Linked DNA regions of Homo sapiens. The protein of the gene in region 1 interacts with the protein of each later gene in a pairwise test. Each region holds a gene or a part of one and is shown on either strand. Other genes may lie near its edges. The genes, in order: SGF29, KIF2C and ITPRID2.

Region 1 (3,651 bases):
AACTGCCTTCGGCAAACCCTGCAGAAAGGCTGCAGGAACCTCCTGAAATGAGGAGAGGGGGCCTCAGGTCTGCCCGAGGGTCACACAAAAGGAGGGGAGACTCTGGGGAGAGGTGCTGGCCCAGAGCAGAACTGGGTGGAAGGACCTCATCCTTTCTGAAAGGCTGAACCCAAAGACAGACCCCTGCATGGCCTTGAAGCCCCAGGAAGCCTCTGTGAAGTTAGTTTATGGGGATTCCAGGGTGGCAGGAACCCAAAGAACCCAGCAGAAGCAAACACAGAACTTGGCTGGAGTGAGGCTCCTTCATCCTAAAGCTCAGGGAATCTTCCCAAAGAGTATTTCCACAGCAGGGATGGGTGTGGTGGCTCACGCCTGTAATCTCAGCACTTTAGGAGGCTGAGGCAGGAGGATCACTTGAGGTCAGGAGATCGACACCAGCCTGGCCAACATAGAGAAACTCCTTCTCTACTAAAAATACAAAAATTAGCCCGGCGTGGTGGCGGGCGTCTATAATCCCAGCTACTTGGGAGGCTGAGGCAAGAGAATCGCTTGAACCTTGGGGGCAGAGCTTGCAGTGAGCCGAGATTGTGTCACTGCACTCCAGCCTGGGTGACAGAGCGAAACTCCATTTCAAAAAAAATACGTATTTCCACAGTAGTCAGCAGCACAAACTCCACTTTGGGTCATTTTATTTTCCTCTGATACCATGGCAAACCCCAGTCCATTCCTCTGGCAAGCCTTTCTGAAATGACCCGGAGTTCTAAAGACCTTTGTGCGGCAGGAAGGAGATGCACAGGAACTGGGTGTGATGCAGCATCTCGGGAGGTGTCCGGGGGTGCCCCAGGGCATGTGACTCATGGACCTCACCAGGCCAGGGCCAGAAGATGGAGGTAGGCCAAGGGCAGCCAAACCAACGCAGGGACAAGGAACAGCTTGCCTGCTGCGTACAATGCAGGGATGGCCCAGCCAGTGCCACCTCAGGCTGTGAGCACCGGGACCCCAGAAAGCAGAGAAGGAGAAAGAGCCACGGGGCCAAAGGGAACTCTGAGAGTCTCATCACTGTTGCCAGGCCTGTGTGGAGGATACAGTTTTATACAGCCTGTCCTAAACTGTCTTCTGTGACATGTTACTGAAGTGGCTTTCAAACCTTGGTGGGCATCAGAATCTCCTGGGGGAAGTTTAAAAAATCTCAATTGTTTCACGCACAAATCATAAATGGATGCTAAAACTAGTGTGTTTGATATGAACAGGATAGTTACAGTCTCAAAAGTATCTCCCAAGACACTTATTAATTATGCAATGGAGGCCAGGTGCAGAGGCTCACACCTGTAATCCCAGCACTTTGGGAGGCCAAGGTGGGTGGATCGCTTGAGCTGAGGAGTTCAAGACCAGCCTGGGCAACATGGCAAAACCCCTCTCTACAAAAAATACAAAAATTAGGTGGAGTGGTGGCAGGTGCCTATTGTCCCAGCTACTCAGGAGGCTGAGGCAGGAGGATCACTTGAGGCCAGGAGTTTGAGGCTGAAGTGAGCCATGATTACGCCACTCCACTCCAGCCTGGATGACAGACTGAGACCCTGTCTTAATCGATCAATCACACAATGGAAAATAGCAGTAATCTGATACAAGAGAAACGTGGAAAATACCACTTTAACCAATGGCACAGACAGCATCCTGTGCCGTCTAATATGACCCACCAGAGACACCTCTTCTGTGCCAAAAGTGTAAAGCATGAATCCTACTAGTGAGGAAATGTCAGATAGTTAATACCAATGTTGGAGCTCCACCCCAAATAAACAGAGCCTCTGGGCACAGTCAGACTTCAGAACCAGTGTGTTCTCAAAGTAGAGGAATGTAATGTTCAAGTTCCTGAATCTCCTGCAGAGATTCAAGGAAACAGTGTTTCCAGATCATTTTTTTATTTTAGTTTTTTTTTTTTTTTTGAGGCAGAGCCTTGCTCTGTTGCCCAGGCTGGAGTGCAGTGGCACGATCTTAGCTCACTGCAACCTCCGCCTCCTGCCTCAGCCTCCCAAGTAGCGTGCGCCACCACACCTGGCTAATTTTTGTATTTTTAGTAGATATAGGGTTTCGCTATGCTAGCCAGGCTGGTCTCAAACCCCCAACCTCAGGTGATCCACCCACCTTGCGATTGCAGGCATGAGCCACTGTGCCTGCCCGGCCTTAAGATTATTTTAAAAGCAGGAGTTTTCTGGAAGTGAAACTTCTCCATCTCAGAACCATAAAACCTTCAGGTCATCTGAGTATGACTTCCCAGCCAAGCTTACAGACACATGCCACCACGCTCAGCTAATTAAAAACTTTTTGTAGAGACAAAGTCTCACTTTGTTGCCCAGGCTGGTCTCAAACACCTGCGTTCAAGTGATCCTCTAACCTCGGCCTCCCAATCACCTCTGTAATGTTGTGATTACAGATCTGAGCTACCCAGCCCCTGATATCCCTATTTTAATGACTCTGCCAAGGTCATAGAGCCAGTAAACGGCAGTGTTGACTCACGCCTTGCCACCTTCTGTAAAGGCATTAGCAGCAGAGGTAACTGGAAGAGTGGGCCTGGCAGTGGGCCAGGGAATGCGGGACCCAAGCGAGAGGCTGGGAGTAGCAATCAGCTTATCCATGGGAGGAAGGCAGGCTGGGGACTTGGTCCAAATGGACCTGCAGCCCAGCCCCCAGGAAAGGAGGGAGCGGCGATGAAGTGGGTGCACGGTACTCACTTGCACTCAGCCTCTGCATCGGCCTTGGCGGTTGTGTAGAGGCCACGCAGCTTTGTCCGGTAATAGGGAGAAACTGCAGAGGAAACACAGGGATAAGGAGGCAGGGCCAGGGCAGGCACAGTAGCATGGCACTGCTTCCATGCACCGGAATCACACTCGTGGAGGCACAGAGAGGCCGTAGCTGCAGTCAGAGCTCTGCTGGCTCAGGAGTGCTCCTGAGGCGGATGCCCCCAGGCTCCATGAGTCCGCATTTCCATATGGTACAAATGCCATCCCTACATCTGCGAGAGTACTGTCTTACCTTTTCTCCATCATGACACTCACAGAAAATATTTGTCAGGACCCAGGAAAACACAATTCTCAGAGTTACCCAGAGTAAGAAAGCCCCAGCCCCAGGATCTCACCACCTGAGGGCCTCAGGGCAGATGCAGGGGCCGCCTGGGAAGGAAGCTCCTTTCTAGAAAACACCAGCTAACTGGGGCGCTTGTGTGCTCTAAGGGCAAGCTTCCCTAGATACAGCCTCATTTCACTGCCTTTCGAATCCTCAGAGTAGAGGGATTTTAGTTCTTCAGGTCACCCAGATTAACGGAAAGCTGTCCCTCCTGCTGCATTTTGGAATATGCAGATACATGCAAATCTATTTTGAATACAATGACCACCTCGGTCACAGTCTTGGCCATACTCACCCTAGCCCCATCTCATCCCCTTTCTCTCCTGAGCCCAGCTACTCACTCTTGTTCTCTGTCTGCATCCGCTCATGGGTCTTCTGGATGTTCACTAAGTTGTGTTCGCTCCGCGAACGCTCTTCCTGTAAGGAAAAGAGCAGCAGGACATGACGGTGGCCCTTTGTGCTGCTGTGGTACCCTGCCAGCCAGGCCAGAGTCCCCATCCCCAAAATACGGCCCTCATTTTCTTTTTTTTT
Region 2 (3,651 bases), on another chromosome or scaffold:
AGAAACAGGGTTTCGCCCTGTTGGTCAGGCTGGTCTCAAACTCCTGACCTCAGGTGATCCGCTCGCCTTGGCCTCCCAAAGTGCTGGGATTAAAGGTGTGAGCCACTGCACCTGGCCCCAGATCTGCTCTTTCTAATACAGCACCCAGTACCCTCATAGGGATATTTACTTATTTTATTTTTATTTATTTATTTGTTTTTTGAGACAGAGTCTCAGTCAGTTGCCCAGGCTGGAGTGCAGTGGCGAGATCTCAGCTCACTGCAACCCCCGCCTCCCAGGTTCAAGCAATTCTCCTGCCCCAGCCTCTCAAGTAGCTGGGATTACGGGCACGTGCCACCACACCTGGCTAATTTTTTGTATTTTTATTAGAGACAGTTTCACCATGTTGGTCAGGCTGGTCTCAAACTCCTGAGTTCAGGTGATCCACACACTTCGGCCTCCCAAAGTGCTGGGATTACAGGCGTGAGCCACTGTGCCCAGCCAGTAGTGTCTCTTCTGCTGGAAGCTGGATGCTGAGCTTAGGCTTTTATGCTGTGTCTCCAGGGTCAGAGGAAAGGTCAGATGGCTTAGAGTATGGGCCATCAGCTTGCTTCTGGTTAGTCGGCCCAGTGATCCCCCAACACCCATCCCACTGCCAGTTTGCTAGGAGTATTTCAGATTTGTAAAGTGGGGTTGGGGTCAGGTGGGACCACTGAGGCAGGAGAGGAGTGCTATTCTTAGAAGGAGGAATCGACCCTAGAACTCTGCAGTGGAAGGGTGGCAGGACATGTTCCAGGGAGCACAGTTTGGGAACAGATACAAATACTCTACCCCTCTTCTAGGTTCACAGCAAGGCCACTGGTACAGACAATCTTTGAAGGTGGAAAAGCAACTTGTTTTGCATATGGCCAGACAGGAAGTGGCAAGACACATGTGAGTATTGAGGCCTGGCGGGGAAAGAGCCTTTCCCTTGTGCACCCCTGGCTCCCTATAAAGGGAGACAATGAGTTTGTTGAGAAAGGCCCCTTGTTACAGATGCCCCATCACCAGATAGCCTTGCCATGTCAGATGCAGGGAGGGGCTTTAGGTCCAGCCTTCTGGCTTTGTTGTGGCCCACTGTAGTGAAGGAGCCAGTAGTGCTCTGCTCTAGGCCAACAGCCCTTTTCCATGGTCTTCTACCCCTTCCCTTTGCAGACTATGGGCGGAGACCTCTCTGGGAAAGCCCAGAATGCATCCAAAGGGATCTATGCCATGGCCTGTAAGTACTGTGTACTGCTGCTTCAGGGTTGGGCACAGAAAGGCAGGTTGTTTGCTTAGCAAAGTTCTCTCCCTCAGCCCGGGACGTCTTCCTCCTGAAGAATCAACCCTGCTACCGGAAGTTGGGCCTGGAAGTCTATGTGACATTCTTCGAGATCTACAATGGGAAGGTAGCTGGCAGGAAGCCCCTTGTTTACACTGTTGGGGCCCAGCACTTTTTAAAACCTTGAAGCTGGCTAGAAGTTGAGGCCAAAAACCTATTAGCTGATTAGCTGTCAAGCCACTGATGGGCCATTCTGCCCTGGCATACACATGTAGGTGGTTTAATCTGATGGTGAGATGGCACCTAAGTTCAAGAAGTATGGCAAGAATACTCCTCAGGGCGCCCTTTCAGGTGCAAGGTTTGCCTGTGTGTGTCCTGACCTCCCTCGGCCGACCTCCTTCATCCCTTCTTCCCCGATTGTGCACGTTCAGTCTCATATTCATTCTTTCCCTGCCCGCACCACCATATATCTCTTCCACCCCTCTCTCTATTCACTGTGTGCTTCTGCAGAGTTGCTTTCCTTAGAGTGGGATCTAGATAATAAAAATAGCTAATATTTATCATTAATAAGATATTAGGGGCCAGGCGTGATGGCTCACACCTGTAATCCCAGCACTTTGGGAGGCCGAGGCGGGCAGGTCACCTGAGGTCAGGAGTTTGAGACCAGCCTGGCTAACATGGTGAAACCCCATCTCTACTAAAAACACAAAAAATTAGCTGGGCATGGTTAGGGGCACCTGTAATCCCAGCTACTCGGGAGTCTGAGGCAGGAGAATCGCTTGAATCCAGGAGGCAGAGGTTGCAGTGAGCCGTGATCGCACCATTGCACTCCAGCCTGGGCGATACGAGCGAAACTCCGTCTCAAAATAATAATAATAATAAGATATTAGGAGCTATGCACTATTCTAAGCACTACCTGTCTCACCTTTACAGATGAGATGCAAGGCTAGAGTGGTTATTAACTTGCCCAGGCTCACACAGCTAGTAAGTTACCAGAGTCACAGCAAACTGAGGCAGTTCGGCTCAGATCCCAAGTATATTGACCTCTGCTAGGCTGACATCCATCAGTTCGTATTCTCTGCCTTTCCTGCTGCTGGCTCTTGTCCGAGCTGGGCAGGCTAGTAGGAGGAAGCAGTCGGGTGGGGTGCCGGGTGCCCAGTGGCCTTAGCCTCATTCCCCCTGCCTGGCACAGCTGTTTGACCTGCTCAACAAGAAGGCCAAGCTGCGCGTGCTGGAGGACGGCAAGCAACAGGTGCAAGTGGTGGGGCTGCAGGAGCATCTGGTTAACTCTGCTGATGATGTCATCAAGATGATCGACATGGGCAGCGCCTGCAGGTGAGAGTCCTGGTGAGGGGAAGGAGCGACCTTCTCATGTCTGGTTTATGAGTAAAGTCTAGCTCTGAGCACATTTCTGTTTACCCAGAGTGCTGCTTTGCCCAGTTTGGTAAGGGCTGCGAAGGCCTCTGCTTTACGGGGTCTCAATAAGACATATGACCCCAGGGCCAGAGGCTTATCAGAACCAAGTCAGGTCAGGCACAGTGGCTCACACCTATAATCTCAGCAGTTTGGGAAAATGAAGCAGGAGGATCACTTCAGGCCAGGAGTTAGAGGTTGCAGTGAGCTGTGATCGCACCACTGCACTCCAGTCTGCATGGGCAGAGCAAGATCCTGTCTCAAAAAAATAAAAATAAAAACAAGTCAAAGTGTTACCCCAAAGGCATGCTTCCTGGCTTCTTTGGGTTCTCCTTGCTCTTCCCTCCCTTTGTGGTGGAAGTCGGGAGCTCTGGGTCTGTTCTGGGCTGGAAGTAATGGGTTCATACCCCCTCTGCACAGAATTAGGGGAGCACTTTTCCACTAGGGCTGTAGACATTGGTACAGTGGGGCGCTACGCAGCTATAGAGGCCCAGGGAGGGGGCTGCCCTCTACAGGGTCCTCAAGTTCTGGCAGGTGGTTCATGACAGCTTCCCCCTTCCCTTTGGGCCCTTTAGCAGAGGGAATTTATCCTTCCCCGTGTCCTTCTAGGGCTCCAGGTCTGACAAAGGCCCTAGTCCAGAATCCAGTACTAATTTGGCTGCCAGGAAAATGTATTAGGTCCAGAGCTGGAGGGAGAATTGCTACCCAGGGAGGGCAAGATGGAAGCCTGGGACAGGAAAACAGGACTTTTTCGCCTCCTAACCTGTGTCCCTCCCTTCCTAGAGAACTTCTGTGGACTTGGGTGCCATGGGGGCTGGTGACCACAGAATCTCATAACCTTTCTTTACCACAGAACCTCTGGGCAGACATTTGCCAACTCCAATTCCTCCCGCTCCCACGCGTGCTTCCAAATTATTCTTCGAGCTAAAGGGAGAATGCATGGCAAGTTCTCTTTGGTA
Region 3 (3,651 bases), on another chromosome or scaffold:
GCCTGGCCAACATGGTGAAACCCCATCTCTACTAAAAATACAAAAATTAGCCAGGTGTGGTGGTAATCCCAGCTATGCAGGAGGCTGAGGCAGGAGAATTACTTGAACGTGGGAGGCAGAGGTTGCAGTGAGCCGAGATTGCGCCCCTACACTCCACTCTGGATGACACAGCAAGACTCTGTCACAAAAATAAATAAATAAGAAATATATTTTATGAAACAGTATTCATTTTGTGTCCATTGAGATTATATCATGCTTGATGGTAGGGATTCTTTTATACTTTATTCCAATAATGCCTGTACTCCCAAAAAAGATTGGCACACATTCCTGGTTTGTCAAGAATACATTTTGGCGACTGGGCGCGGTGGCTCACGCCTGTAATCCCAGCACTTTGGGAGGCCAAGGCGGGTGGATCACAAGGTCAGGAGATCGAGACCATCTTGGCTAACATGGTGAAACCCCGTCTCTACTAAAAATACAAAAAATTAGCCGGGCGTGGTGGCGGGTGCCTGTAGTCCCAGCTACTCAGGAGGCTGAAGCAGGAGAATGGCGTGAACCCAGGAGGCGGAGCTTGCAGTGAGCCGATATTGTACCGCTGCACTCCAACCTGGGTGACAGAGTGAGAATCCATCTCAAAAAAAAAAAAAAAAAAGAGAATACATTTTGGCTAGTTTGTTTTTTGAGTGATGAAGAATAATGAGATATAATAAAATGGCCATATTGCATTGGTAGCAGGACTGGAAAGACTATACTCATTGTTGTGAATATAGATTTGCAGTGGTCCTAATTCAGTATGTTGTATTTCTGTTTATATACTGTGACTAAGAGATTCTGGTTTTTAAAATATTTGTATCCAACACATACTTGTTTGAAAAGTAAATCTGAAGTGCTGTGTGCTTCAGAATCTTCTGATGTTGTTTAAAGTTTAGAAATATTGATAAAAGGTAAAGTGAAAAGCTTATAGTATTTAAATATATTCCAGTACAGATGGTTGGTAGCTAAGGAGTGTTTTGTTTCTTTAAATAACTATGTATAAATCTATGTATTGTGTACCAATTTTGCATGATAGACTAATACAGGACCATTTTTGGAAAGATTATAGTTAAGATGTGTTTGAGATGTACTTAGGAACATTGTAGGAAATAAATCAATTTGGCTGACAGGAAACTGGAAATGTAGAATTTTTAAAAGCTTGTTGAGAGTATCTTGAGTGCTTATTTGGGAACACATTATCACTTTATTTCAGGAAATACACATTTATAGCTTTCACAAAGGGCTATTTAAAAGTGATGCTGTATCATTAGAGAGAAAAGGTGGAGATAGGCATATGTAAGTGTTTGGACACCTGTAGAAGAAAATCCTGATGGAATTGTCATTTCCTCAGGTCTGTTTGCCTTTTCCAACAATAAAATGAGATGTATATCCTCATATCCTATATGCATATTGGAAACAAAAGCTTAGATGGCTGGCAGTGATACCATGCAACTAAAGAAAAAGTTATTTCTTTAGAGTTTATGGTTGTTTTGAGGATGTTTTTTATATTATAAAATAAATTGTACTAAATGATAATTTCTTCTTCCCATTTTAAATGTGTTAGGTTGAACAATATGTCTTTAGATACCTTGCTGTCAGTTGGCATAAACAGGCAGTATACCTGTATACTATTTTGCCTCTAAAAGATTTTCTCAGCAATGAGAGCACTTGTGTCTCTGCTGATTACCTTACAAAGTTAGACAATACTAAAAACATTTAAGAAGTCCTTCCAGATTATTTTTTTGACATGAGGTAAAGTATTTACTAGAAGTTTTTTAACTTATGAAATAACATTTTCTAATGTCCTCACCTTATGAATTGTGATATTTGTAATCTAGTTAGCTGAACAATTCTAGACCAGTCCTTGGGAGTCTGATCTGGGTTGGATGATAGATGGACTCGATTCCCCACTCCCTCTCTGTATTGCAGGGAGATTCACATGAAGGTGAAATTAAGAAATTGAATGCTATTTGTATTTTTTCCAAAAACAGGAAAAAATGAATTCCATTCATATTGGTAAATTTTTGTTTTATTGTTTTTCCAATCTAGATTAAAGAGTCTATTGTTGGGGAAATCAGACGGGAAATTGTAAGTGGACTTTTGGCAGCAGTATCTTCAAGTAAAGCGTCTAATTCTAAGCAAGATTATCATTAAACAGAAATTATAGGTAAATTTTTCTGAGTTTCTTTGTTGAGCTAAATGTAAATAGTAACTGGCATTTTATTCTTTGTTTTGTTAGTATACAGGTTTGGTTCTCTAGTTAAATTTTGAGTTTTAGAATGTATGTAATATGTTATTTTACAATGTGAAAATTTCACACAAGCCTATTTGAAGTGTAAGTCAAATCCCATAATACAAATCTCCAAGGAATTACTTATATTGGGTCATTCTACTGAAATTTCATTATAGTAATAAATCCTGGAATTGGACCTTCAAACCTGAATCTTATTTTGATTATAATGGTATTTCAGATGTATAGTTTTAAAGAACAAGATTTTGTGAATTAATCACAACTTCCTTTTTTTTTTTTTTGAGACAGAGTCTCGCTCTGTCGCCCAGGCTGGAGTGCAGTGGCGGGATCTCGGCTCACTGCAAGCTCCGCCTCCCGGGTTCACGCCATTCTCCTGCCTCAGCCTCCCAAGTAGCTGGGACTACAGGCGCCAGCCACTACGCCCGGCTAATTTTTTGTATTTTTTAGTAGAGACGGGGTTTCACCGTTTTAGCCGGGATGGTCTCGATCTCCTGACCTCGTGATCCGCCCGCCTCGGCCTCCCAAAGTGCTGGGATTACAGGCGTGAGCCACCGCGCCCGGCCGAATTAATCACAACTTCTAAGTATCTTTCCTAATTATTTTTATCTTTTAAAGAAACATATCCCATAGATTCATTTCTAATAATAATTTATTTCAAAAAACTCTTTTATATGTCTGTCTTAGTAAAACGAATTACTTTCATTTTATCTCGTAGCTCTAATTACATTAAAAAATTTTTTTGTAGAGATGGGGTCTTGCTATGTTGCCCACGCTAGTCTTAAACTCCTAGCCTCAAGCGATCCTCCTGCTTTAGCTCTAACTTCATTTTATATAATATATATTAATAATAATTCTTGGTGAATGCAAAAAGAAAGAATAAGTTGAGTAGAATAGAACTAAAAATATTCATTGAATAAGACATGAGAAACAAATGTAATTTGAAAAGTATAATATACAATTTCAGATATAGGAAATTGGAAAGTATTTTAATAAATTATGTCACAAAGCAATTAATAGGAATTATTTTTTTTAAAGCCAGGGATATAAGAATTAACTCTCAGGAAGATGTATAGAGATTACAGGATAATCATGTTTCTGTGTATATATATTTGCATAAAATTCTCATCTTCCTTTAAAGAAGCTTTTAATAACAGTATTTGAAAGAGGTTTAAAACTGACTTCTCTTTTCTTTTTTAAGGTTGGCATGGATCCTATTAGCTGTGTAATACTGGAATTATCAATGATATGCACTGGTGGAGGTGTTATTTGTGCTTTAGAAGATACTTGCTGTTGAGCTGGGCTACTGTATACAGTGTACAATGTGTATTTCTTCAACCATATATTTTAAAAAGACGTACATAGAAACT

What was found.
Region 2: the proteins of SGF29 (region 1) and KIF2C interact in binary tests that used the Homo sapiens proteins (3 or more experiments, as listed by UniProt).
Region 3: the proteins of SGF29 (region 1) and ITPRID2 interact in binary tests that used the Homo sapiens proteins (3 or more experiments, as listed by UniProt).

What each region holds. Positions count from the first base shown.
Region 1 is NC_000016.10:28,584,799-28,588,449, reverse strand, and holds part of SGF29 (SAGA-associated factor 29), read right to left. Parts: intron 3,538-3,651; coding exon 3,462-3,537; intron 2,803-3,461; coding exon 2,730-2,802; intron 1-2,729. UniProt on the Homo sapiens protein: Chromatin reader component of some histone acetyltransferase (HAT) SAGA-type complexes like the TFTC-HAT, ATAC or STAGA complexes.
Region 2 is NC_000001.11:44,756,735-44,760,385, forward strand, and holds part of KIF2C (kinesin-like protein KIF2C), read left to right. Parts: intron 1-821; coding exon 822-912; intron 913-1,173; coding exon 1,174-1,237; intron 1,238-1,314; coding exon 1,315-1,406; intron 1,407-2,471; coding exon 2,472-2,614; intron 2,615-3,545; coding exon 3,546-3,651. UniProt on the Homo sapiens protein: In complex with KIF18B, constitutes the major microtubule plus-end depolymerizing activity in mitotic cells. Regulates the turnover of microtubules at the kinetochore and functions in chromosome segregation during mitosis.
Region 3 is NC_000002.12:181,926,079-181,929,729, forward strand, and holds part of ITPRID2 (protein ITPRID2), read left to right. Parts: intron 1-2,082; coding exon 2,083-2,187; 3' UTR 2,188-2,200; intron 2,201-3,482; coding exon of another isoform or gene 3,483-3,578; 3' UTR 3,579-3,651.